Regions from separate parts of the Homo sapiens genome. Here region 2 is linked to region 1. The links come from fine-mapping of genetic effects on gene expression. A gene starts in region 1. The other region holds a variant in brackets. All regions are shown on one strand. Distances are from middle to middle. Region 1 holds the start of MAN2A1 (mannosidase alpha class 2A member 1). Region 2 overlaps MAN2A1 (mannosidase alpha class 2A member 1).

The links. PIP is the estimated chance that this variant, and not a neighbour inherited with it, causes the effect. A credible set is the group of variants that fine-mapping cannot tell apart.
Region 2: its variant is the best candidate, but not a certain one, in a credible set for the expression of MAN2A1 in whole blood (TOPMed, PIP 0.84).

Annotation. Positions count from the first base shown.
Region 1 is chr5:109,685,099-109,697,938 of GRCh38, forward strand. It overlaps MAN2A1 (mannosidase alpha class 2A member 1), which reads left to right and starts at 4,829. Exons shown (of 22, transcript NM_002372.4): 1 at 4,829-5,454. The coding sequence starts at 5,320. MAN2A1-DT (MAN2A1 divergent transcript) reads right to left here and starts at 6,001. Exons shown (of 1, transcript NR_186543.1): 1 at 2,703-6,001. RefSeq lists enhancers at 3,485-4,153, 3,913-4,012 and silencers at 4,123-4,412, 4,423-4,942, 4,973-5,182, 5,593-5,692.
Region 2 is chr5:109,788,964-109,801,803 of GRCh38, forward strand. It overlaps MAN2A1 (mannosidase alpha class 2A member 1), which reads left to right. Exons shown (of 22, transcript NM_002372.4): 11 at 1-85; 12 at 497-564. Among named protein-coding and RNA genes, the nearest start is that of LINC01848, 88 kb to the right of the region's middle. The variant C/T (reference allele first, on the strand shown) is at 7,659.

The DNA.
Region 1 (12,840 bases):
TATCTCATTGTGGCTTTCATTTACATTTGCCTGATGATTAGAAAACCTTTTTTTTTTTTTTTATATGGAGTCTTGCTCTGTCACCCAAGCTGGAGTGCAGTGGTGCAACCTCTGCTCACTGCAACTTCTGCTTCCTGGTTTCAAGCGATTCTCCTGCCTCAGCCTCCACAGTAGGTGGGATTATAGGCACCTCCCACTACACATGGCTAATTTTTGTATTTTTAATAGAGAACGGATTTCACCAGTGATCTGCCCGCCTCAGCCTCTCAAAGTGCTGGAAGTACAGGCAGAAGCCACAGTGCCCGACCTAGAGCACCTTTTAATATTAGCTGTGGGCCATTTGTATGTCTTCTTTGAAAAAATGTTTATCCAGGTGACTTGTTCATTTTAAGATTGGGCTATTTATTTATTTACTATTGAATTATGTGGGTTCATTATATATTTTGGATATTAGTCCCTTAACAAATATGTGGTTTGCAAATATTAGGTTGGTGCAAAAGTAATTGCGGTTTTTTTGCCATTACCTTTAAAAAATCACAGTTGCCATTACCTGCAAAAACCGCAAATACTTTTGCACCTACCTAGTATTTTCTATCAGCTGGGTGGTTGCCTTCTGTATTTGTTTGCTAGGGATGGCATAACAAAATACTAAGGACTGGCTAACTTAGACAACAGAAATTTATTTTCTCAGTCTGGAGGCTAGAAGTCCAAGATCAAAGTGTCAGCGGGTTTGGTTTCTCCTGAGGCCTCTCTCCTTGGCTTGCAGATGGCTGCCATCCCAATCTGTCCTCACATGGTCTTTTCTCTGTGTGCATGTATCCCTGGTCTCTCTCTCTTCTTATAAGGACACCAGTCAGATTGGATTAGGGCCTTACTAACAGCTTCATTTTAACTTAATCGTCTTTTTAACTTAATCTCCTCTTTAAAGACCTTATCTCTAAATACTATTACACTCTGAGGTACTGGGGGTTGGGACTTCAACACGTGTATTTTAAAGAGAAACATTCAGCCTATACCACTTTCCTTCCATGGCCACGTGATTGGTATGACCAGTCCCTGCAACAATCACTTTGCCCCTTTTCCCCCAAATCCTAACCATTGCTAACCCACACCATCTGTTTGGATTCATCTCTCAGTGACTCAGTGGTTTTGTCCTCATATAGCTTTACCATCCTAGAACATATCCCACATCCGAAGTGACCACTTTAGAGTTGTCATCTCATACTCAAGATCATTATCTCCTTCTCTCTGGTTCAAATATATATTATTACAGCACCTAAAATACTTACTAATTCCTGCTCATCAGGTCCAATCAGCATAATGTTGTCAATGTAGTGGACCAGTGTGATATTTGATGGTATGTCAAGACAATCAATATCTCTGTGGACTATATTAAGGTGAATTGACATACCCCCAAGACAATACTGTGAAGGTATCCTGTTGGCCCTAACATGAGAAAGCCAACTGCTTCTGGTGGTTTTACAAACAGATATAGAGAAAACAGCATTAGCCACATCAGTAGCTATATACCAAGTGCCAAGTGCTATGTTGATTTGTTTCAGTAAAAATAATACATTTGAGACAGCAGCAGCAATTGGAATCACTTCCTGATTAAGTTTATGAGTCCACAGTTATTCTACTAGATGTATCCTGTACTGGTGAATTAAATGAGAGTAAGTATCACCACTCCTACTCCTTTTAAGACTTTTATGATAGCACTGATTCCTGCAATTCCTGCCAGCCATGCAGTGTTGTGTTTAGTGAGCTAAGTGGAAGCTCTAAGAGCTCCTGGAGCTTCCATTTAGCTCTCCCTAATAATAGCCCTCATTCTATGGCTAAATCCCAATGTGGGGATCCTGTCAGTTGCTAAGTATGTCTGTTACAATTATTAGATTGGTGCAAAAGTAATTGCTGTTTTTGCCATTAAAATTATGCTGTTAATACATATTCCAATTACACTGGGAAAGTAGCCACATAGTTGGTATGTGGACTAACAGTGGTGATTTCTGTCCCCAGGAATTAGCATCAACTCAGAGCCAGTGTTTAGTAAACCTCAAATGATCTGTGTATTTCCTTTTCGCCAATGCAGTTTCACTAGTAAATGGCCACATGTCGTTTTGGGGAAAGCTTGAAAGAATTTGCCATGTGTACTGTAGCCAAGGTGCAAGATCCTTCTTAAAGGGAACACAGATTCTCTTTCAACCAAGGGACTATGGGTCTGTGAATTGACTTAGGTCTGAGAACTGAGAGACTGTGACTATCCACTGTGGTGACTCAAGTCAGGTTTTGGCTACCTGACTTAGATCTTTTTACCTGTTATAAATATCAAGCAATAATCTATTTCAACTGCCTATCTATTTTGTTCTCAGAGCAGCTCCGTAAGCCAAGGCAGTCTGATTTCCTGCTGCCCTTTAAGGTACATGTGCGCCCACCTTGTCTTTGTTGGTTATGTGCTGCCTGGTTTCTGCTATTCTGAGATCGTGTCATCCCCATTGAAATCAGGGAGCCCATCTAGATAGTGGCATCCTCTATAGTCAAGGTTTTCAAGCAAGGCTAGTCTCTTTAGACACTGGAGGGCAACCTACTTCCACTGATAAGAGAAAGAGTTGGCGTGTTTAAGATTGTCGGTTTCATCTGGGTCCAACCCATTTCAAGTATTGAGATTCTATTATTAAAAAATAACACCATTTTACACGAAAAACTCAGAATATGTGTGAATTTAATAGCAGTTATAATTCAGTAACATGAAAATTAAAATTTTGTTTGATTCTCAGCATAATTCTTGTTGCTACAATAAACCAGAGCTTTTGGAATTCTGCAGAATATCTCTGGTTCTCATACCATAACTCTGAGAGTTAAAAAACCTGTGCTTGTCATTTCTCTTTATAACCACTCAAAAGCACGCAAAAGAATCCATCCCACACCAGTCTTTCTAGTCATCTTTATAACCATAGCAGTCAAGTGTAGCAGCCACTTGGGGCCCCAAGGCACAGGCTTCAGTTGGCACTTCATCAGGATCAACCACAGGTAATTGCTTAATTGAGATGCCCAGCATGTCATGAATTACATTTCCCTTTGGCAAGGAGCTAAAGCTCAAAACCTCAATCAAACTGACCTTTAATCCCATCTTTGCAGGTCTATTTCTTGGGACTACTCCCGGGACAGGGAAGGCTTAATAAAAAGAATTGTTAACTATAATAGAGGATTAGAGTAATGAAGGATTCACTAGCAAGAAGAGAACTTTAAAGAATATAGCAACAGCAGCTATAAGGAGCTAACCTTATAACTAACTCTTGGGTTGAGAGACAGAGTGCCCAATGAAGAACCTCCCCAATTCCTCCCAGGGCTAAGATCTAGACGTTTTTGGAGAGGGCATGACCTGGCTCACTGAATGGCAGAGAAGTCACCATTGGGCTACGTCTGCAAAGCTTGTGGAAGATGTGCCCTCTGCAACTTGCTGCAAATGCCTCTAGGGTGCCAGGGAAGTTATTCATGGGGTAGTGTCTCACCTCCTCTACAAAGCTCCTAGAGTTGGGCATGTGAGAGGAAATTGCTAGTTACTGAGCACTATAGGACCTTGGCAGTGGAGAAAGCCAGGTATGCTGCAAAAGCTTATCAATACACAGAAATCAGGAAGCAAAATCCTTTTTTTCTGTAATGTCTCTTCAGCGCCCTCTGCTGATAAAGCTTCAGTCCCAGAAGGCAAACGAAAAACTGTTTAAAAGGCTCAGATCCGTTTTTACAGTGCAGTCAAAAAGGGCGAATTTGGAGCTGAGAGGCAATAAATCAATAACTGGCAGAAGCATCACTTCTCAGATTACACTCATGGATTTCGTAGTCAGATGTTTCTACATGTGCCTGGACGGCCCTTTGTCAGTCTCCTTTCCCCCAGGTTTTAACAGGCTGTCACCAAAGGAGGAAATAGTGAGCCCGAAGAGAATGTGCAAGCCCTCTTCTCTTGCATTTCCTCCAGCCCGTCACCAAGTACTCTTCCAGGCACGCCAGGCCCGAGTGTCCTAGGATAGGAAACCTGAGCAACAAAGGGAAGTGGGGTGTAAGCTCAACCCCTGTTGGACGTGGGGGTGCTGGCGCCTGAACGCCCCCGAAGGCCTCAACTCCCAGAAAGCTGCCTGCCAGGTCACAAGAGCCCTGTGAGGTCTTCCTATCGCCGGGACACTGGGAGGCAGGCGCGGGGCGGGTCCGCCGGGCGACGCGCTGTGATTGGGCGCCGTGGGGCCCGCCCCCTCATCTCGGAGCGTCGGGAGGGGGCGGGGCCAGCCGCCCGCTCGGCTCAGGCGCTGCGGGCGCCTATTGACCCAGCGGCTGCTGCGCCGCCGCTGTCTCCTCCTGCTCGTGGCGGGCGGTGCTGGAGCGCCAAGTGGCGCTGGAGAACCGGCGCTTCCTTTCGCCGCTTCCGCCGCCATCTCCGCGTTTGTGGGGCGGGAAAGAGGGAGGGGGCTAGCGGCTGCAGCTGGAGCGGGCTTCTCTCCGGGGACGGTCCTTTCCTCCCTGCTCTCCTTTTCCTTCTTTCCGCGTTGCCGCCGCCCGCCCCCTGCGCCTCCCCGCGGAGCCTGGGTCCGGGAGGGGGAAGGTAGGGGCGGCGGGGGGCGGGAGAGTCTGGCGAGCGGACGCTAGCTCTGAGGAAACTCATCAATCCGTGAGCCCCGGAGTCCGGGGTGCACATCGGCCCAGCCGCAGCGTCGGCGGCGGCGGCGGCAGCAGCACGAAGGGGCTCAGTCGGGGTAGGCGGGGGCGGTGCCGGTGCCGCGGGGGCGGGCCCGACCGTCCCGCCCAGAAGTTGTAGGGCTTGGCTCCTCGCGATCTTGTTCCTTTCCCCTCCGCTTCTCTGACCTAGCTGCGCGGCCCCGGCCCGGGAGCTGCCGAACCCGCGCCTCCCCTGGGTGAGGAGGACACGCCTGCCCTCGTCGAGAAAACTTTTCCTGCCGACTCAGTTGGGGCGGCGGTGGCAGGAAGTGCGGGCAGCGACCTCTCCTCCGCCTGCCCCGCGCGCCCTGCCGGAGGTCGGCGCTGAGCTTGCGATCAAGTTTGTGGGGGCCCCCCTTCCCAGTTGCCGGCGAGTCTCGCCTCGAGAGGGGCGCCCGACCCCGGGGAGGGCGGCAGGCCAGGGCGAAGGCCAAGGGCGTGTGGTGGCGCCGGAGACTAGGTGCGGAGCAAGGCGGGGACTCGCACCCGCATCCGAGAGCGCGGAGGTCGCGCAGCCCGGGAGAAGGGAGCCTCCGGCGGCTGCTTCCTAGAGTCCACAGTGCGCTGTCTCCTTTGGCTGAGGAGAGTGTCCTGGCCCCGAGTCTATCGAGGAAAATGAAGTTAAGCCGCCAGTTCACCGTGTTCGGCAGTGCGATCTTCTGTGTGGTGATTTTCTCGCTCTACCTGATGCTGGACCGGGGTCACTTAGACTACCCCAGGAACCCGCGCCGCGAGGGCTCCTTCCCTCAGGTAAGCACCTGGGAAGGGGGCGCGGGGCTCCGAGGGGCCAGGCGTGCGGGCCCCTGGTTAGCGGCTGCTACCCAACCTCTTCCTCCCGCCGCGGCCCCACACCCGTGCTGGGCGAGGCCAGGGGCTCTGTAGCTCTCGGACGGCAATGATCACCTCCTGGGAGCCACCTCGCCCGGGCGCGCCAAGTTAACAAAGTGCTGGGCGGCGTGCGGCGGCGGCGGCGGCATCATCCCGCTCAGGAAAGTGGCCATGTTCCGGCATTCGCACCCGGCCTGTTGGGGTGGCTTCGGGCACCTGCTGGCGGGGGAACGGGCGCGGCGTGAGGCACCCCCCGCCAGCCCGGGGCCCGCGTATCCCGGTGGGGTCGTTCTCGGCTCTCACAGGGTTAAGCCGCCCGCACCAGCCCAGAGCCCCTGAGCGCACGGAGTCGCGGAAATGGATCAAACCGAACCCACCTAGGCTTTTTTTTCTTTTTCTTCCCCGCTGCCTCTGAAGAGAGAGAAGTTTATTTCGTGTTGCGGCCCTTTTAGATGTGAATCTCTAGGTTGATTTTAGTGTCGTCATTCTTCAGCTATTACATCTGGTTTGTTTGTGGCAGACAGGGGGAACCGAGTGGGGAAGCGCGTGTTATACTCCGGCCGAAAGCTGTGGGGCGCTCAGTCCTGCGTCCAGTGGTTAAATTGGTAAATGAGTTGGGAAGACGACCCATCCAAAGTCTTATTTAAAGTTACCAAAAATAAGCAAAGCGGACACAGTCTGTTCCCTTTGGAAGGGTATCCACCGCGCGGCATGTGCGAGTTCAGTTTCAAGTTACTTGCCAATATAACCCGTGCACTTCAGAAATTGCGGTGAAACTGGGTATTGTGTAGTGTGTAGTGTGCTCTGTAACGAATGAACCTGAAGAACTCAAACCCTGACAGGGCAATCTAACTATTCCTACTTGACTTACGAGAAAGAGAAGCCTAGACGTGAAGTTGATATATATTTTTTTCTCTTTTGTGATAACTTAAATGACCAAAGAATATCCTTGCCATTTTTTTTGTGTTATGCTAGAGCAAATGGCTTGAATTTAATTGAGATTAAAGTAAAAACTTTACTGGAATTATTGTGAAAGTGAAAAAAGACCCTTTTATGGATGCTGTCATCAATACAGAGCACTCAACATGTTTTGTCGGTGAGAGGTTTTAAAAATCTTGCTGCAGAGAGATGTATCAAAATTTTAAAAGCCTCTGCTTCCCCTAGGTAGTATGACAGAGAAAATAGAAACAAGCACTGAGGGCATCTTTAAATCTTGAGCTCAGAGCTTGTCCAGTGCTTCTTGATGAGGTTGAAGAAAACAGTTGGAAAAAGGTAAGGAGTTTTAAGCTTAGCTTGATATGTTGTGTAATTTTGGGGTTGAAATTACTGTAATTTTTTTCCCTCCAGTAACCTCATTTTCAGATTTTCCTCCATTACAGGAAAATCATAAAAAGTGATATTTTTACTTAAAGTGTTTTCTAAAATAATGTCCTTTGGCTTTGGCTTGATGATCACTTGAAAATGGTTTATGCAAACATCTGGACCTGGGTTTTCTGGCAACCTTGACATTTTCTCTGTTCAGAATCTAAAGACATGAGTGACTCATTCAGTTACTGAGAAATCTTAGGCAAAGCTAATTCCAGTATTGTAATATCTATCCTTAGTCCTCAATGAGAGGCTGAAGTTCTGCTTTAAGCGTAAAGCATTTGATGAAAGGTCAAAGTGGCTGCTGGAGGGGAAGGCTGTTGGTACTCAACTGGGAGGTGGAACATTTTGCATTTAAGATTGCCTTTCTCAGATTTTCTGTACTGGATTTTCACTGCAGAAAGAAGGTATTCTTTAAGTGCTTGGACGGCCACTGAATCCTCAAGCAGATAGACATTCTAAGACCCCTCTGTAAGCTTAACCGTTATGTGTGTGACATTAGCCTTCGTATCTTACAGGGTAAAACTTAAGTGGCGAGGGGACTGAGGCACTGAGGCACGGAGAGATTAATTAGCTTGCCCAAGATCACACAGCTGCAAGCTGAGATTTGAACAGGTAGCCTTTGTAGCCCAGGCTCCCAGCCACTGAGTTGTCTTGCCTCTTAGGAATCTGTTGCCTACTGTTTAGGCTGCCATTTGCTTATGGAAAGATCTGATGTAAAATATAGAGCAGTGATCCTCAACCTTTTTGGTACCAGGGACTGGTTTCCTGGAAGACAGTTTTTCCACAGACAGGGGTGGGGATGGGGGGAGTCGGGGGTTTCGGGGGATGGTTTGGGGATGAAGCTGTTCCACCTCAGATCATCAGGCGTTAGATTCTCATAAGGACCATGCAGCCTAGATCCCTGGCATGCGCAGTTCACAATAAGGTTCGTGCTCCTATGAGAATCTAATGCTGCTGCTGATCTGACAGGAGGTGGAGCTCAGGCGGTAATGCTTGCTGACCTGCTATGCCACTCACCTCCTGCTGTGTGGCCTGGTTCCTAACAGGTCCATGGCCCTGGGGTTGGTTGCCCCCTGTATAGAGCATGTTGCTCTCTGGTACCTTAGCTTATGACTAAAGGAACTTTTATTTTGAAGCCATAATGAATATGGTCCTTTTTCTGAAACATTTACTGCTAGAGATTTATACCCTTCCCAGAATGTCTTTGAGCTCATTTCAGAGCTAAACATTATAATGAAAACCATTGTGTAGTCCAGCATCCAGAACTTGAGTTGATTCTTTTTTTTTTCACTGCTTCTAACTTATTCTTAATAATACCAAACATAGCAAAAGGAGGTTGCAATACATTTGTTTGGCAAGTTTGGGTATTGAATTCTTGAGTTTTAGTAGAGCCAAGCAGGTCGGTCACTATGTGTCATTTTTTGGTATCTAGTAGAACGGTTTATTTAGATAGGTATTGGGTTCCTCTAAATTGCCCATTTAGTTGGTTTCAGTTGATACGGAACCTTCACTAGGCTTTAGGTCTATCTTGTAAACAAGATATTTTTAAAGACCATCCTAGATTGAGAGCAATCTATTTGTTGTTTTTTTGGAGAGCGGGGGTTTGTTCTTTTTCTCTTCTCTCACAACTCTGGTGTTTTCCACCATTTGGCTGGACTCTGGGGCAAGAGTGGGCTGGCCGAGGGTGCTCCAGTTTCTCTCACCCCGGAACAGCTGCCTGCCTCTAAGATATTCTTTGGAAGTCTATCCTGAAGCACTCCGAAGCCTTGCTTCTGCTTCTGGGAGGAATTCCTTGGAGGACTAGAGGCAACAGGGGGCCTAATCTGTTGAAACTTGTGTGTATATTTCAGGGTTAATAAATCTCAGCTAAGAAAATTAATAAAAATTCCACTGTGAATGAGAGGTTGGTCAGAGACTAATGTCTTGAAAATGCTTTATGATAACTTGGAAGAATTTGAGCAGATGGAAAGGAGAAACTTTGTTAAGGTCTCCCTGAAATTAGTCATCACTTCTTACAAGCAGATTTCACAAGGTGCTTACTATCTATGGTGTGTATAATAGGGTTGTCTTATTAATTAGTCTGATGTTTGGATCTGGAGAAGTAAATTAATGAGTCAGGTTTTGTATAACAAATGATCACTTTTTAAGTAATTAGTGTAGCATATGACCGTAGAGATTAATATTAACTCTTAAAATATGGAAATTGAGACTCCGATGGAAAATGTGAAAGTGAAGTTAAAACTTTATCTTTTTGCCTATGTAACATTTATCAAGTGAGAAAGTGAGAATGCCTTTAAATAAGCATTTGATTGAAAGCCATTAGAAGGTGAGAACTTGTATACCTTTTTTTTTTTTTCTTTGGGATAGGGTTTTGCTCTGTCATCCAGGCTGGAGTGCAGTGATGGAATCACAGCTTACTGCAGTGGCCTTGAATTCTTGGGCCCAAGCCATTCTCCCACCTCAGCCTTCTGAGTAGCTGGGACTACAGGTGTGTATGCCACTGTGCCCAGCCAGTTTTAAAATTTTTATTTTGTGGAGACGGGGTCTTACTATGTTGACCAACTGGTTTCAAATTCTTGGCCTTAAGCTATTCTCCTGCCTCAGCCTTCCAAAGTGCTGGGATTATAGGTGTGATTCACTGCTCCCAGTTGCCTTTTGTGTTTTTTTTTTTTAACTTACTGTAATACACATACAGAAATGTGCTTACATACTTTACATCAGTAGTACTTAAGAGTCCAGCATAGTAGATGTTATTAATGAAAGTTGACTCATGGCAATACATATAACTAGGACTTTGATTCCCCAGTTTTTTTCTTGCTTTCATAAATCTGTAAATCTTACTTAAGAATGACATATAAGGAAAATATGATCTCCTTCCCCTTCCTTGAGTGCAGTCTATTTATAAACAATAGCACTTGGTGCTGGGGTTTGTTCACGTTTGTATGAGGGAGATTGTCTTATTTTCTGGGATATAATGCGGAGATCTGTGCTTTTTGGGAAGTGATGGAACGTTGATAGTGCATCCAGCATTTAGGAATGCAAGAACAAACATTAGAGCCTTTTGAGGATGGTGTCCTCTAACTCCTCTTCAGTCCAACAGCCCTGTGGGTCTCTTCCTGATCAGCATTTTTCACTAAGACCCAAACTTATTTCCTGTAAACCAACTGGGCCAGATACTCATGACTGTCTGTGGTCTGAAGATAGTAGTTTATGTTTTGTTTTTTGTTTTTTTTAAATTGAATTGGGTGTGTTGTTCCCAGATGAACACTGTTATCAGGGCCTAAACAAATATTTTTGTCAGGGAGATGTCACAATTGTATTATTGGAAGGGGATTTTCTCTCTTAGCTTTTAATTTGCATTAAGAGGTGTCTGGGCTGTGGGCAAAATAGTGGCTAAAATGACCACTTTTATTTGTTTTTGAGTCAGCTATTGCTTTTTGTGATAACTGAAAACTTTAGTCTTTTTTGAAGGACTGAAGTGTTGAGAGTTTCCTGGAATGAGTGGTTCACTAGCTGTTGCTGATCACCTGGTTTATTCTTAGCTTTTTTTGCATTCAGGAGTCTTAGTTTTCCCTTGTTCTCCAACTTCTGTAATCTTTAAGAAAATGAAAGGATATTTAGCAGCTCTGATGACCTGTATTTGCTGGATTGTAAAGGCCTTATTGCATTTTTTATCCCTTCTGTCTTGGTAAAAGTTCCTGATAGCAGCAGCTTTTATAAAAGTTTGAGCAGAACTAAGGCAAGGAGGAAGAACTCTAAAATAGTGATTTTTGCTTCTCAGTTGTTATTAGTAGGTTAATCAGGAGAGGAAGTAGGACATTTTAACTAAAATGGGTTTCTGTTTCAGTTATCAAGCCAAGCTGCTATTTTTAAGTTTGAAACCATTTTTAAATTCAGACAGGTTTGAGGATTAATTGTACTGAAATGGAGCTCACATCTAGTGCTTTAGTGAGTATAGCTAAATGTGCCTATAATAGGGAGGAAGTAAATCATTTGGTTTGATGAACTCTGTCACTTGAGGTCATATCATAGCTTTTCTGAAAGAGTGCCCTGTTTAAGGTAATTATATTTTATGCAGACAGGTGGATAGTAGGTATCTAGTATATATCTTTTTTTTTTTTGAGACGGAGTCTCACTATGTTGGCAGACTGGAGTGCAGTGGTGCAATCTCAGCTCACTGCAATCTCCACCTCCCGGGTTCAAGCGATTCTCCTGCCTCAGCCTCCCGAGTAGCTGGGATTACAGGCACAAGCCACCATGCCCAGCTAATTTTTGTATTTTTAGTAGAGACGGGGTTTCACCATGTTGGCCAGGATGGTCTCGATCTCCTGATCTCGTGATCTGCCCGCCTTGACCTCCCAACATGTTGGGATTACAGGCGTGAGCCTCTGCGCCTGGTTGGTATCTCTTAAATATCTTAATGTTAAATTTCTAAATCTAACATACTGTTTTCTAAAGAAGAGAAAGTACTTTAGTTTAAAACTGGACATACTCTACCATTTGCTGCCTCTATCCAGGCTTTGTAACCTCTTTGCTGTTGACATTTTGGGCCAGAGAATTCTTTCGTGTTAAGGGCTGTCCTGTGCGTTGTAGGGTGTCTAGCAGCATCCTTGCTGTCTACCCGATATCTGCCAACATCACTGTTCTCTCTCTGTACCCCTAGTTGTAGGAACCAACAATGTCTCCAGACACTGCTCTCAATATCCTCTGGGAGTGGGAATCATCCCTGTTGAAACTGTGTTGGCTGTGGCCTCTTCTTTATACCCAGTACATGTCGTTAGCACTTCTGTGTTTTAGGAAGGATTGATCAAAAGGCCGAAGCTCAAAAAGCCAATTAGCATTTTTTGATGGGTGAACTCTATTCTTTCTCAGGATGCCTGAAATTCACTTACACATTTAGGATTCTAGATTGTAGTATGTTACAAAAAATTTCAAGGATAGATTATGTTCATAGGTAAGTTGAAGGAAAAAATGGAAGATTCTTATAATGGAACGTAAAAAAATTCTTTTCCAATTGGACGTGTGTATTCTGAGAAAAACATTAGGGTCAGGTCATTGTAAATAGATCATCTTTTACTTTCTTCCAGCTGAATTACAGGTTGGCACTTATCCAGATTTATTCCTCTTAGCATAGGAAGATAAGATATATTGATTAATAAGGTAGTATAAAAATTGTCTGCAAAAATGTTTTGAAATGTCTGCAGTTTTCTCAGGCAGACTGTTTACTTTTCAGTGTATTGTTTTTATTTCTGTTAATTTTGATGATTCTGGTTACAACATTTTAAATATCTTCTTGAGATGAGAAAAAGCAGGGAAAGAAACTGGAAAATAAGGAGAGTGGATAGAGACTTTCCTCCTGATCATTTCATTTTGTCCTCTAAATAGCATTTTTTACGAAAGTGGGGTGGAGGTGGGAGGTTAGGGAAAGAATGAAGTTCTTGACAAATAATCTTCCTTCTTTTGTCTCCAAGGCCTCTGGTTTTGAACTCTGCTGAGTCAGCTAACTATGAGTGAAATCTGTCTGCCACCTGTCTTTATAGGGCCATGTGCTAAGAATGGTTTTTACATTTTTAAGTGGTTTAATAATGTTTCATGACATAGCCATGGTCATTCATCTACCAATTGTCTCTGACCACTTTCACACAACAGTGGCATAGTTTAGTAGTTAAGACAGAAACTGGCTCACAAAACCTAAAATATTTACTCTCTGGCCCTTTTCAGAGTTTGCCAATCCCTAGTTTAAACTATATTTCTCTATTGTTAATATTGGAGGCAAATAGTATTGTTAGATCTGTTAAAGTAGATGTGAGTTAATTAAAGACAAACAAAATTCTCGTAAATTGGTTATTAGATAAGCATTGGTCAAACTTTGTGTTTTTAGAGAGTGGTTTAAAACTTGTGTTATCTACATGTTTCATAGATTTCCAGGTATCCTTGGGG
Region 2 (12,840 bases), 100 kb after region 1:
GATAATTGGAAATTCTGCATTTCTTCTTATTTTGAAGGACAAACTCACATACGACTCTTACTCTCCTGATACCTTCCTGGAGATGGTTAGTAATTTCATCTATGGTCATCATAAAAATGTGTAATTCCATTGTTCTTGCATTAGCAAAGAGGATGAGAAGCTTAATGAAAAAAGACATTGAAATATAATTTTTTGTACATTATTTGAAAGAATTTTTATCACTTAATATAAATTACCTGTATGTTCATCTTTTCTATAAATATTTCAAAGTATGTGAAATATGTAGGGTTTTAGAATACTATTAAGATGTTAGTAAGGCAACTGGGGCATTATAACTAGTTGTTTTGCTTGGCTTTAATTAGAAACCCCTTGATATTTAACTTTTTATAAGTCCTTAATCTGTTCCTCCTAAACTTGAATTTGAATGGTCTTCTGGTTTCAGGATGAGTCCATGGAGTGTTAAGTAAAATTAAAAAATTACTGTTCATTTTTATAGGATTTGAAACAAAAATCACAAGATTCTCTGCCACAAAAAAATATAATAAGGCTGAGTGCGGAGCCAAGGTAAATTCATAATTTCTTACAAATGTTTACCACTTTCTGGCTTAATAGTTTTTGGTTTTATGGTTCTGGTTTTTAGTTAGCGTATATTTTGAGGCAATCAATTTATTAATTAAAAAACTCCTAAAAAATGGATTTTCTTTCATGACTGTGTTATGCTCAGTGCCAATAGCTAACACAGTGCTTAGTATATTGACTGCTGAATAAATTATTATAACAATATTTCTCACAGATATAAGGTATAGCATGATAAATATATAGCTTATAAAACATTTTCTTATCTCTATAAAATTTTCAGATTATATCCTTTCTTGATTAACCTTTCATTTAACTACCTTGTTTTCATTAATCCCTGATCCTATTTTTATATGAAAGAAGAAACTTTATTATTATTGGAAGATCAAGGTTTCTACTGTAAATTGTTTATTAGATAACTGTCATTTTGCTGGTGAAACAGCCTTGTTTTAGCACTATTGATTTATGCTAAAGTAAATGGGAAGGGTGTTCAGTGACCTTAAACCAGGGCATTTAATTGGTGGCTACCTAATAATTATAAAGAAATGCATTATGTTTTATTGGTATTTCTTTAAACAGCAAGGTATCTGTTTTTAATAACCAAATATTTGTTGGTCATTTCCTAGTTGACCCAGGCACACAGTGGTTATTTTTTGTAATATAACCTTTAACTGTCAGAATCAAGATATTTAGTACCTCCTCTTGCCAATTATAGGATAAAACAATAATTTCAAAGAGTAATTCATTATTTCAACTAAATATATTTTATTAAAATTATTTAAAAATAAATGGAATGAATGTAAAAAGAATTTATAGTTGCTAGTAAAGTTGAGACTTTTTGTTAAGCATAGACTAAAGTCTTAGTTGTCTAAATTTCTTTAGTAAGTAGAGACATAAGGTGTATACAGCTTATTCCTTAGAACGAGATAATAAGTTTTTTTATTTTAGTAATACTAATGTTCTCTGTAACACGGCAGAAGCCTTAGGAGCTTTCAGATTGCCAGGTCATAGTTAGGATGAAAGGATAATGACACTGAAAGAAATATTTCTTATAAAATTACAAAATGTTTTCTTTGTCTTAAAATAAGTTATGTTTTGATGCATTTGGGGTTATATGCCTGTTCCTTAAATATTGTGTTCCTAGTAAACTCTGGCATTAGTAAATCTATTTGGCTTTAGGCATAGTTCTCTCATCTATTAACTTTTCTTTCTTTTTATATTTTGGTGGAGGAAGATCTTTGTTTTTGCTGGTTATAAGAATAATATATGCTGATATAAGTGATTTGTGCCCCATCTCTGGGTGCTCTTATGCTGGGTGCAGTGAGGCAGGGCTGGAACCATAATAGGTCAGAAGAAAAGATGTTCCCTTTAGTTTATCTCCTTCCTTCACTGTCTTTGCCTTAGCAAACAATAATTGATAATTTTGCCTTTCTAATGCCAGAAGAAGAAAGTTAGGAAATGTAGTATATTAATGAAAGAGAAAAATATTTTTAAGCTTTCATATTGAGGAGTTTTAACTACAGGTAAACATAAATGGAATTTCGGGGGCTATTAGTAAAATGATTGCTTTTTGATATTTCTTTTTAAATAGTTTTTATTTAAATAGTATAGGGTTTATCTTCCTATTACTTCTTTACAGTTCTTTTTTTATCAAATATTGACTTCCTATTTCTGTAGGTTGGTAAATTAGGAATACTTCTGATTGGCAGATTCTTATTTGTTTTTATGCTTATTATCCATTTTATAGGTTAGGGCTTCTTAGATTTTAGGTTTTAAAATCTCTATTTTACTTGTTAGCTGCAAATTATTTTAGTTACTGATCTGTCAGTAAAAATAGATGAACAATGAAGGAATGATAGTGGCCTTTAAAATGGAAGAATTTGATTGTTTTATTTAGCAGGTACTGAAAGTAAAATAATTGCCCTTTTCAGTTTTTAAATTGGAAGCCTTAGAGGTGTGGCTGTGAGTCTTTGTCATATTCTTCATGAGTCTTCTTTAATGTTGTAAGGGTTGGCTTTTTTTTTAGTTATAAACACAGTTCCTGTTTGAGTAACAAATTATCTCTCTAAATAAACCATGCATTCTCGATGGGGGAGATATTTTTTCCAAGAGAGTGAAAATTGGTTTTTGGGGATTTGAAGAAAATCTTACTCTTTTTAATATATAAAGCACAGATATAGTACGTAACAGGTAAACAGTTTGTGTGTGGCATTAAAATTGTATGTGGGTGATTAGTAAATGTCTAAAAAGAGTCCTTAGGGAGGTGATAATGTAAAAAAGATTGAGAAATACTAACTTAAACCCATAGAATATAAATAATACACGTAAATTTGATCATGCTGTTGGCAATATTAGTTATAGCAATAAACCTAACATAACTTTGTAAGTATTTAAAAAGTAGTCCAAGATCTGTTTAAAGTGACATTAGTACATGTTGATATGCCTAATTTAGTTCACACAGTTATGTGAGCTATATCATGTGTGGATTCGTAGTTTTTGTGTAGAAAACAGATACTTCAGAATATCAACTAAGATATAAAAAGAAAAGCCCTCCCATAACGCATTGCCATTGGCTTGTTTAATGGTTCTCCCTGGATGACCTCCCAGCACCAATAATTTAAGTTCCTCTGATTTTCTCCATACATGCTTTCCTTTTGGATGCCAGTCTTGATTAAAAGTATTGTTATCTTTTTAGTTATCTAGGTTCTGAAATCCCAGAACCTACTTTGACCTCTACCTTTTATTATTCCTTAAATTTCATCACTTGGAGAGTCTTTTTTTTCTCATCTGTGAAATGCATCTTCTCTTTTCCTGTTACTTTTTGGTTCTAAGCCATACTTCGTGCCTGAATTACTTCAACAGCTTCTTACCCTTTTGTCTTCAATTTCCTATGCCCCTTATTTATTACATGAAGTTATCAGAGGAATCTAGCCAAAAACAGAGCTCTGAGAAAGTCACTTCTAAATTCAGCATTCTCTAGGTACTTCTTCTTACCTATTGAGGAAAGTCTGACCTGATGGTCAAATGTTTTAGTAGACTATTGCCTAACAAACTAATCTAAAACTTAATGTCTTAAATACAATTTATTATATTTCCCACGTTTTTGTAGAACTGCTGGTCAGTTCTTGCTTGGGGTCTCTCATACCATTGCAGGCAATTGGAGATTGGGACTGGAGTTCCCCAAAGATTTGACTGGGCTCAGTGTGCAGGAGGGCTCATATACATTGCTGAAAGTTAGTGCTCCCTGTTGGCTGAGGGTTCAGTTGGAGCTGTTAGCTGCCAGTACTTACACATGGCCTCTCCATATGACTTGGGCTTCTCTAACCATAGTGGCTGGTTCCAAGGGGGAGTGTTTTAAGATTGAAAGTCTCAAAAGTGAGTTTTCTGGGTAGAAACAGCAAGACTTCTTAAGACCTAGCTTTGGAAGTCCTAGAAGGCCATTTTCATTACATTCTATTGGTCAAGGAAGTCATTAAGGTTAGCCAAGATTCAAGGGGAGGGAATTACTCTCCATTTCCTGATGTGAGGAGCATGTATAGGAAGCAGTGGGAATGATGGTAGTCATCTTCGGAGACTAGCTATCACAGTTCACCTATAGGCTACCTCAGTTCACATACCTTTCATGTACGGAGTAACCTCACCCACCTCCCAAGATGTCCAAAGTCTCATCCCATTATGCTATTAGCCCCAAATTTCTACCTAGATCAGGCCAAAATGGGTCACTCATATGGCTGGCAGTTAATGCTGGCTTGTTTCTTCCAGTATAATTATTTAAAGTTAATCACAGTAGATTGTAAACTCCTTGAGAGTAGGAATTATTTCTTTATTTCTAGCATCATGCCTGTGGTATTATATGCAACATAGCAAGAGTAATTACAGATTCATTGAAATACATTTAAATATTGACTGAAGAGAATATTAAGCTTCAGACACCAGATATGCATAGAAGAACATGGTTCACATTCTATGTGAAAATGTGGTATCCTGGTATATATTCTCCTCAGGTGGTTCTTTGGTCTCATATTTGGAGGTTGGGTGCCAGAGTGCTTCTAAGTAAACTTTAAGACCGTTACAAATAAAGATAAACCATAATTCAATAAAGCTTGGAATTTGTATAACTGTCCATTTAAGATTTTAGTTTTATACCATGAGACCTGAAAAATTTCAGATTGCATCTCAGCATCATTGCATTCTTACAGAGTTAACTTCGTTAAGATTGGATATTGGGTGAATGTTCAGAATGGATGGATATAAAAGATAGTTCCAAATAGCTGAATGAATTGGCTTTATCAGATTGGTTTTTATATGTAAGACTTATTGTTATGATCAACATAGCCTGATTCTACATTTTGTATTTTTAATATTGTTATTGTAAACAATTCTTCTGGCACTAATTATCTATTAGTTTAATGGGATTCAAGGCTAGCTTTTTTCTTTTCTTATGTTATCAATATATTTTTATACCAAGTAAGAATGTGTCTTAGAAAATATCTAATATCTCTACCAGTTGTTTACACATAAGTTTTAAATGAAGAAGCCAAACTCGCAACCTTATTTTTATTGTTTGGAAATGGAATTTCTAGGAAAATAGAATTCTGACCACTCAGATTGTGGCAGCATTATTTGATAGAGGCATTTGGAGCTTAACGGCGGAAGTGAGATTCCATGACTTGAACCAAGGCGGCTCTAGTCTGAGAAGTGAGTCTGGTGAAAGAGCTGTTAGTGTACAGAGGGAGCGCACTTTGTGCTCAACTGTGGAGGAGATGGAAGTGTTAGCTGCGATAATTAGTCCAGGAACTGTCCTTAATAGCTCATGGATTATGATGGTTTAAGCTTAAACCTTGACACGTACTAGAAAACTAGTATATAGAAATGTCTTTCCATTAGTTAACAGAAAAATGAGTGTAAAAAGTCAGTAAGATTAAAGGTTTTCTTTCTTGAAACTGGTCGGCTATATTTTTTAATTATCCTAAAGAATTCAAGGCAATAATAGAATACAGGATTTGACATCCTGGACCCTCTCCAGCTTCTGTTATTTTGAGAAAAGCTGAGATATTTTTACCTTTTAAATAAAGCTGTTTTGAACTTTTCTTTTGGTGAGGGAATTAGTAACTGATGGTCCTAGAGACTCTTAAACACATAAAAACTAAGCTATTCTGTATTCCAGTCTAGTTTAGTTGTATCTAGGCATTAATAGTACAGTGTATTTATGAATTTTATTGGATTTGAAGGATGAGTTTATAAACTGTCCTCTAGGATGCTTTTCTGTTTAAATATATATTGCTTGTAAAAGGTATTTGTATGTTTTCACCTATGTTCTGTCTCTGTTATGTGTTAACTCTGATTTTTTTCAAGGTATAGGTTGGCTAGTTCCCTGATTATCCAGAAGCACTTTTCATCTTGTCTGTAGTCTACTGGAGTGTTTTCAGAAAGGATGCTTTATCCAAAAGACTGAATGGAATATGTTATATTATGTAAATAACCAAAAGTTTCTTAAGGAATTCAAGGTACCTGCAAGATGCTACGTTAGTTAATTTTATGTTAAAAATTATTTGCATTGACTAGTGGTTGGTACTAGTGTTGGAGCAGTCATGGCTTGGTAGCAATACAAAATAATCTTATTTGGTGTTTGCCATTCCAATTCAGTCATCACAGGATTACATTTTGCCTAATTTTTCAAGAAAATATAAAGGTCTCTTGGGGAGGAAATGAGGAGAAAAGGCTCCACCTTTGTTCCAGTCCCTCCCACCCTTAGCATTTCTATGTATTTTATGACATCAGGAATGATGAGTATTAATTCCTGACATACTGTTTCAACCTCACATTGACTGAAATTAAATAACATCTATTATATTAAAAAAATAGTTGACACTTCCAGTTTACGTGATGGCTGACTAGAGACCATGAGACTGACTCTTAGTTTCCCATTAAAGCTCATATGAAAATGTAGAAGATGATGAACAGTTGTAGGAATACCAAAACCTTGGCTTGACAGTCAGTGTATTATCACAATCTAAGATGTCCACAAACTACAAAGCTGATAGAACTGGTCTGAAAAATGCAATTACTTGCTGATTAATGATAAGCAGTTAGAAATAAAAGCAACCTGCATGTCTTTTAAAGCAAGTATGGAGAATGATTCCTTTTCCTTTTCATAATGTCTACCCCCAAGGCTTTCAAATTCTGGTATTATATCAACTAGAAAAGTGAACAAATATTTTTCTATTGGAAGAGTGCTACTTTTGAGGCTATTAGGAAGTTAGGTAGCTTTTCTTTTTTTTCTCTTCTTCCTCCCTGCCTAAGGTCTCTGTTGACCATCTTCATTTAATTGACCAAGTAGATCAACTGACACTCTTCATTCCTTTTCAGTGCCCATGGTAATGTGGCCTTGTAGCTAACAGGCTGTTAGCTAGCAGGCCAATGTACTTCCCTCCCTCCAGTCTTTCAGTTGTGTGATTATCATGAATCAGTTATTTATTCCTAAACAAGTTGTTGTTATTTTTTTCTCATAAACCATTTTATTACGCTGTTGAATTACATAAAAACCCTTTTTTATGAAGTTGAGGACTTTGGAAATATTCAGCAAAGGTGAGTCACTGATAAATGTTGGCGAGATGACTGCAAAAGATTTGGGAAGAAATCATAAAAATATAGAAGCCGGCTGCACTCAGATTTTCTTAACATTTTTGAGTTTAAGTTCTTGCTATACTTTAGAGAAACCTAAGCTTGGAACCACAGAAGATTATCACATGTTTGGTTATGCAGAAAATATGAAAACTCCAATTACTGGTTCCATAGTCAAAGGATTTGCATATTTTGAATATGATACATGTATATATTTCATGGTAAAGTAAAATATTAAGAATAACACATACATATCATAATGATCTTCTACTTTAACTTTTATTTTCAGCTCAACTTTAACTCTTTCTGTTAATAGATCTATTGCCAGCCTTGATCACATTGATGAAAGGGCTTCCACTGTGTCCATATTTTGCAATCAATTTGGAGACTAAATCTGCCAGAAATAAAGTAGGCAGGAACAAGGAAACTTAACGATAGATCATTGAGCTAGGAAAGTC[C/T]GCTCAAGGAAATTGCTGTTGGTGGTGGCATGGGCAAGAATACTGTGATATTCTTTGTTGAAGAAAGAAGCCTTCCCTTTGTTCAGAATCAGAGCTGGTATAGAAGACTGAATACCAATCAGGCACAGCCACCTTGGATATTAAACCTTTTGGAAACTTGCGATCAGGCTGGATCCATGCATGTGAGCCTATTATTCACCCACTCTTTTTCTCCATCACTGAATCCTCTTTACATCCTTCATGACATTATTAACAAACTGGCCATGTCATTTATTCCTTATTGTGTGTCTCACTTGGTAGACTAGCAGCTCCATGAGGGTAGAGAGCTTGTTTGGTTTTGCATCCCCTGGCAAATACCTGGCACACAGTAGGTGTTCAACAAATATTTGTCAAATAAACTAACTACGTTAGAGAAGGACTTCAGCTAATATCAAAATAAAAAGGACCAAGGGTAGTTTTAGCAAACACAGAGTCTAGGTAAATGTCTACTTCTTTGAGGATAAGTGATTGAAAGGTTGTCATAGGAGAGCTGTGAAAAAGCTCTACAGACTGATTAAAAAATAGGGTGCAGCATGAAGACTCAGAAGTGTAGCTTACTTATTAAAATGATTTATTACAGAGACCAGATGAAAATTTTTTTAAAAAAAGAGGACCTGGAACTCTCAAAAAGTTTTGAGTTATAATCTCTGAGAAATATGAAACAAGGTGAAACACTGAAACAAAAAGATGACAAAAAATGAAAATGAAAATATTTGGAAGAGGAGAGGAGTGAGATAAGGAGAGATTGTTGGAGGGGCAATAACAGACCATCTTCACTAGTGATGCTGAAGAGTAAAGCTGACACTGAAAGAGGGTATGGATGTGAAAAAAAAGTCCATGAGATACTTTTTTAAGAATGTAGACAAAAGGAAGACAAATGCCAACAATGAGAAGGAAGATGATGATCGGTATGGAGGACAAGATTCCAACAAAAGAATTAAAAAACTTTAGGAAAAAATACAGCAGAGGCAATGATCAAAGATATAATTGATGAAAAGTTTTCTGAGCTGAAAAGGCCTCCCTTTATAGATGAAGAGGGATAAGTGCTGGGTAATAAAAATGAAAAAAGAGCCACCCCGAGTACACCATGGTAACTTAGTTCAACTAAAAGGAAAAAGGACATATTAAAAAAGTGCCCAGGCAGAAAGACTATATTGTATAATATAGAACAAACGCTAGACTGACTTAGACAGGAAGACTATGAAGTTTTGAAATCATTTTATACTCAAAGTTATCTTTCATATGTGAAGGTAGTAGAGAGACATTTTCAGATATGAAAACACTTATACCACAGGCACACTTCCCATATTTTTAAAAAGAAATTTTAAAAATTTCTTGATGAGGTCAGTTCAGCTGACTGATAGATGAATTAAAATTAGCAATTAAAAATGAAGAATTAAAAAGGCATTGGAAACAATTAGACGTAGTGAAATCTAAATCATTATTGTCAATTTTATTGTCAAACTAAAGGTAGAAGTGTCCATTTAGTTTTGATAGAATTTAACAGCACCATGGATCTGCAGCTTCAGGTTATATTAATGCCTGAAATAGGTGGAGAGGCAGGAGCATATAGGAGATCCTAAATAATAGTTTTTCTTCAAGAAGATTTAAAAAATACCAACTTCTGGTGAGAGTGATATTTCGTATTCCATTGCCTTCACTTACTATCAGTGTACTGTTAACTCCTCAAACATCTGTCTCTGCTGAGAAAAGTCTCCTAAGTTCTAGACCCACTGGCCAAGTGGATAGCTCTCTTGGGATGGCCCATTAGCAGCTCCATTTCACCGTGTTTAAAACGGAACTCCTCTTCCCTGCTTGAACCTGTTCTGTGGTCCCAAGCTCTTTCAATTTTAGAGTGACCAGATATGACAGTTTTTTCACTATTAGCCTCTTTCACTCTCAAAATTAGTTTGGACAATAAATTATGGGGCTACCCTGATCATCTTGTCTTTTTTACTTTCAACTCGTATCCAAACACATGCTAGACCTTTTCATTCTGTGTTTTGTTTGTTTGTTTTGTTTTGTTTTGTTTTGTTTTTGAGATGGAGTATCGCTCTGTCGCCCAGGCTGGAGTGCAGTGGCACAATCTCGGCTTACTGCAAGCTCCGCCTCCCAGGTTCACACCATTCTCCTGCCTCAGCCTCCTGAGTAGCTGGGACTACAGGCACCCGCCACCACACTGGGCCAATTTTTTTTGTTGTTGTTGTATTTTTAGTAGAGACTGGGTTTCACCGTGTTAGTCAGGATGGTCTCTATCTCCTGACCTCATGATCCGCCCACCTCAGCCTCCAAAAGTGCTGGGATTACAGGTGTGAGCCATCGCACCCAGCCTCATTCTGTTTTTTAAATGTGTCTCAAATTTGTCCTCTTCATCTTCAATGCTACTACCCTGCTTCAGACTGCTACTGTCCCTCCACTGGGTGATGGTAATAACCCTGTGACAGATGTCCCTGCCTCACACATTTGTTGGCGGAGTTTAATACGGTTATGTGTATGAACTTCATAGTATGGGACCTAGCGCTTAGCAGGCACTTAACTAATATTAGCAATGATGTAACTTAGCTCAAAACCCTTCTTTTTTCCATTACCCTAAGGATAAACTCTAGACTCTTTAACGTGGCTTGTGTGCCTGTATTTTTGTCTCTCGCATCATCTCTTGCATCAGCTCAGTCTGCACTATGTGCTCCAGCCCCACAATGACTCTATTCAGAACACAAAAATTCAGAGAACTATCAATTCTTGGACACTCCATTTTTTGTTATATTACCTCTACATCTTTACTACCTGGGGGGTTAAAAAAAACAAAAAAGCAGGCCAGGCGCAGTGGCTCATGCCTGTAATCCCAGCACTTTGGGAGGCCAAGGCGGGCAGATCACCTGAGGTCAGGAGTTTGAGACCAGCCTGACCAATATGGAGAAACCCCATCTCTACTAAAAATACAAAATTAGCTGCGCATGGTGGCGCATGCCTGGAATCCCAGCTACTTGGGAGGCTAAAGCAGGAGAATCACTTGAACCCATGAGGTGGAGGTTGTGGTGAGCCGAGGTTGCACCATGGCACTCCAGCCTAGGCAACAAGAGCAAAACTCCGTCTCAAAAAAAAAAAAAAGCGAAAGAACCAAATCACAACAAAAAATCTCCAATCTTGGCCGGGCATGGTGACTTACCCTATAATCCCAGCACTTTGGGAGGCCGAGGTGGGTGGATCCCCTGAGGTCAGGAGTTTGAGACCAGCCTGGCCAACATGGTGAAACCCTACCTCTACAGAAAATACAAAAATTAGCCGGGAGTGGTAGCATGCACCTGTAATCCCTGCTACTTGGGAGACTGAGGCAGGAGAATTGCTTGAACCGGGGAGGTGGAGGTTACAGTGAGTCAAGATTGCGCCACTGCACTCCAGCCAGGGCAACAGAGTGAGACTGTTGTCTCAAAAAAAAAAAAAAAAAACAACCTCAGACTTCACCTCTAGATGCACCCGAATGTGCACACACACAGACATGCACATGCACACATACACCATTTGCCTGATAAATTTCTGATTGTCTTTTAGAACTCAGCTTAGATGTTACATCTTACATCCTCTGGAAACTTGGTTGAGATCCTTGAAGCTAGGTAGTGTTCTCATATGACTCCATGGGACTGTGTTTACCCACTAAATGCCTGCGTAATAGTCCTCTGAAGAGACTTGCTATAAACCTCTTGCCGGTATGGGTTGGTCTTGTTCATTATTCCAAAATGGTGCCTAGCAAATCTTTAAGGAAAATGACCTACTGCCAGTAGCATTTGAGCTAGGAATTGCACTAGAGGGAATCTGTCCTGCAGAAATAATCAGATATGGAGGTGGAGAGAACTCTGGAAAAGGACGTGCATTTCAGCTTTGTTTATCATGTGAACAAATATTTTAAAAGACTTAAATGTTTATCAGTAATGAATTGGTCAAATATTCTACATGTGTAAGTTATATAGAAAGATTTTTAAAAGATGCCTAAATTAGCATTTCTTTTTGTAATAGAGAACATAGGGCTGGTAAATTCTGGGATTTTAACTTAAGTTTTTATGAAATTTGTGTTTTCAAGTTTTATGGAGTAAATGAAGATGACTTGTTTGAATTGAAGTTGTGAATGGTTGAGTGAAATATGGAAGAAGTGCTTGGTACATAGGAGGTGTTTGCTAAACTAATAACTAAAAATTGGAGGTGGAGAGAGTGAAAATTATGAGAAAAAGTCATGTAATCATTAGGCAATTAAATAATTTATCCATAGTGATGAACCCTTATGGGAAAAGTTTTGATTTAGAATCATCTCGCATTCATTGTTTTCTTCTTTAAAGGTGAAGTTTTTTGTACTTGTTGGCTTTCCTTTGTTACCCAATATGACTTCTTGTATGTATAGTGTTTCATTTTGTATTGCACTGAACTGCATACAACAGAAACCTTATTACAATGGCTTCTGAAGAAAGCCTTTTATTATTCTTATGGACAAGTTTCAAGGCAGGTAGTTAGGGCTCATGATGGGTTCCATGGTGCCGTCAAAAGTCCAGGCTGCTTTTACCTGTTAGCTCTACCACTGTTAGCCTGTGGCTCTTGTTCTTGTGAACTCAGGATGGTTCCTGCTTCTACATACAGTACATCTGTGTTTCGTCCAGAAAGAGGGATGAGCAAAGGAGGAAGGTCATGGCAGTTGGGATAAACTGGGGACTCAGTAACTTTGTCAGAATTTCCACATACTGGAATTCTAATTACATGTCATTGTCCAGAACTGTGCCACATGTCTGCATCTAGCATGGGGAAGCAGGTTTTTTTTGTTGTTCATTTTGATTTTGTTTTTTAAGCTATGACTGTTGCCATCCTAAATAAAATTGGCTTTCTATCAATAAAGGAGAAAGAGATAATGGTTGTTGGGTAGGAAGGAGCAGCATCTGCAAATTAGATTCATTAACTAGATCAAAAAGCAGCTACCAGATTTTCTGTCAGCTACTCTTCCTTGCCCACTTCGGCTCAGGGACTGGAGTTGTGTTCTGAATACTCTAGGAGCAGGTCTATACTGAATAAATCAGTAATGGTTGTTAGAAATGTCTTTAAAACATGTTCTCAAGACTTATCAGTTAGGAAAATCATACCAAACACAATGAAACTGAAAAATTTT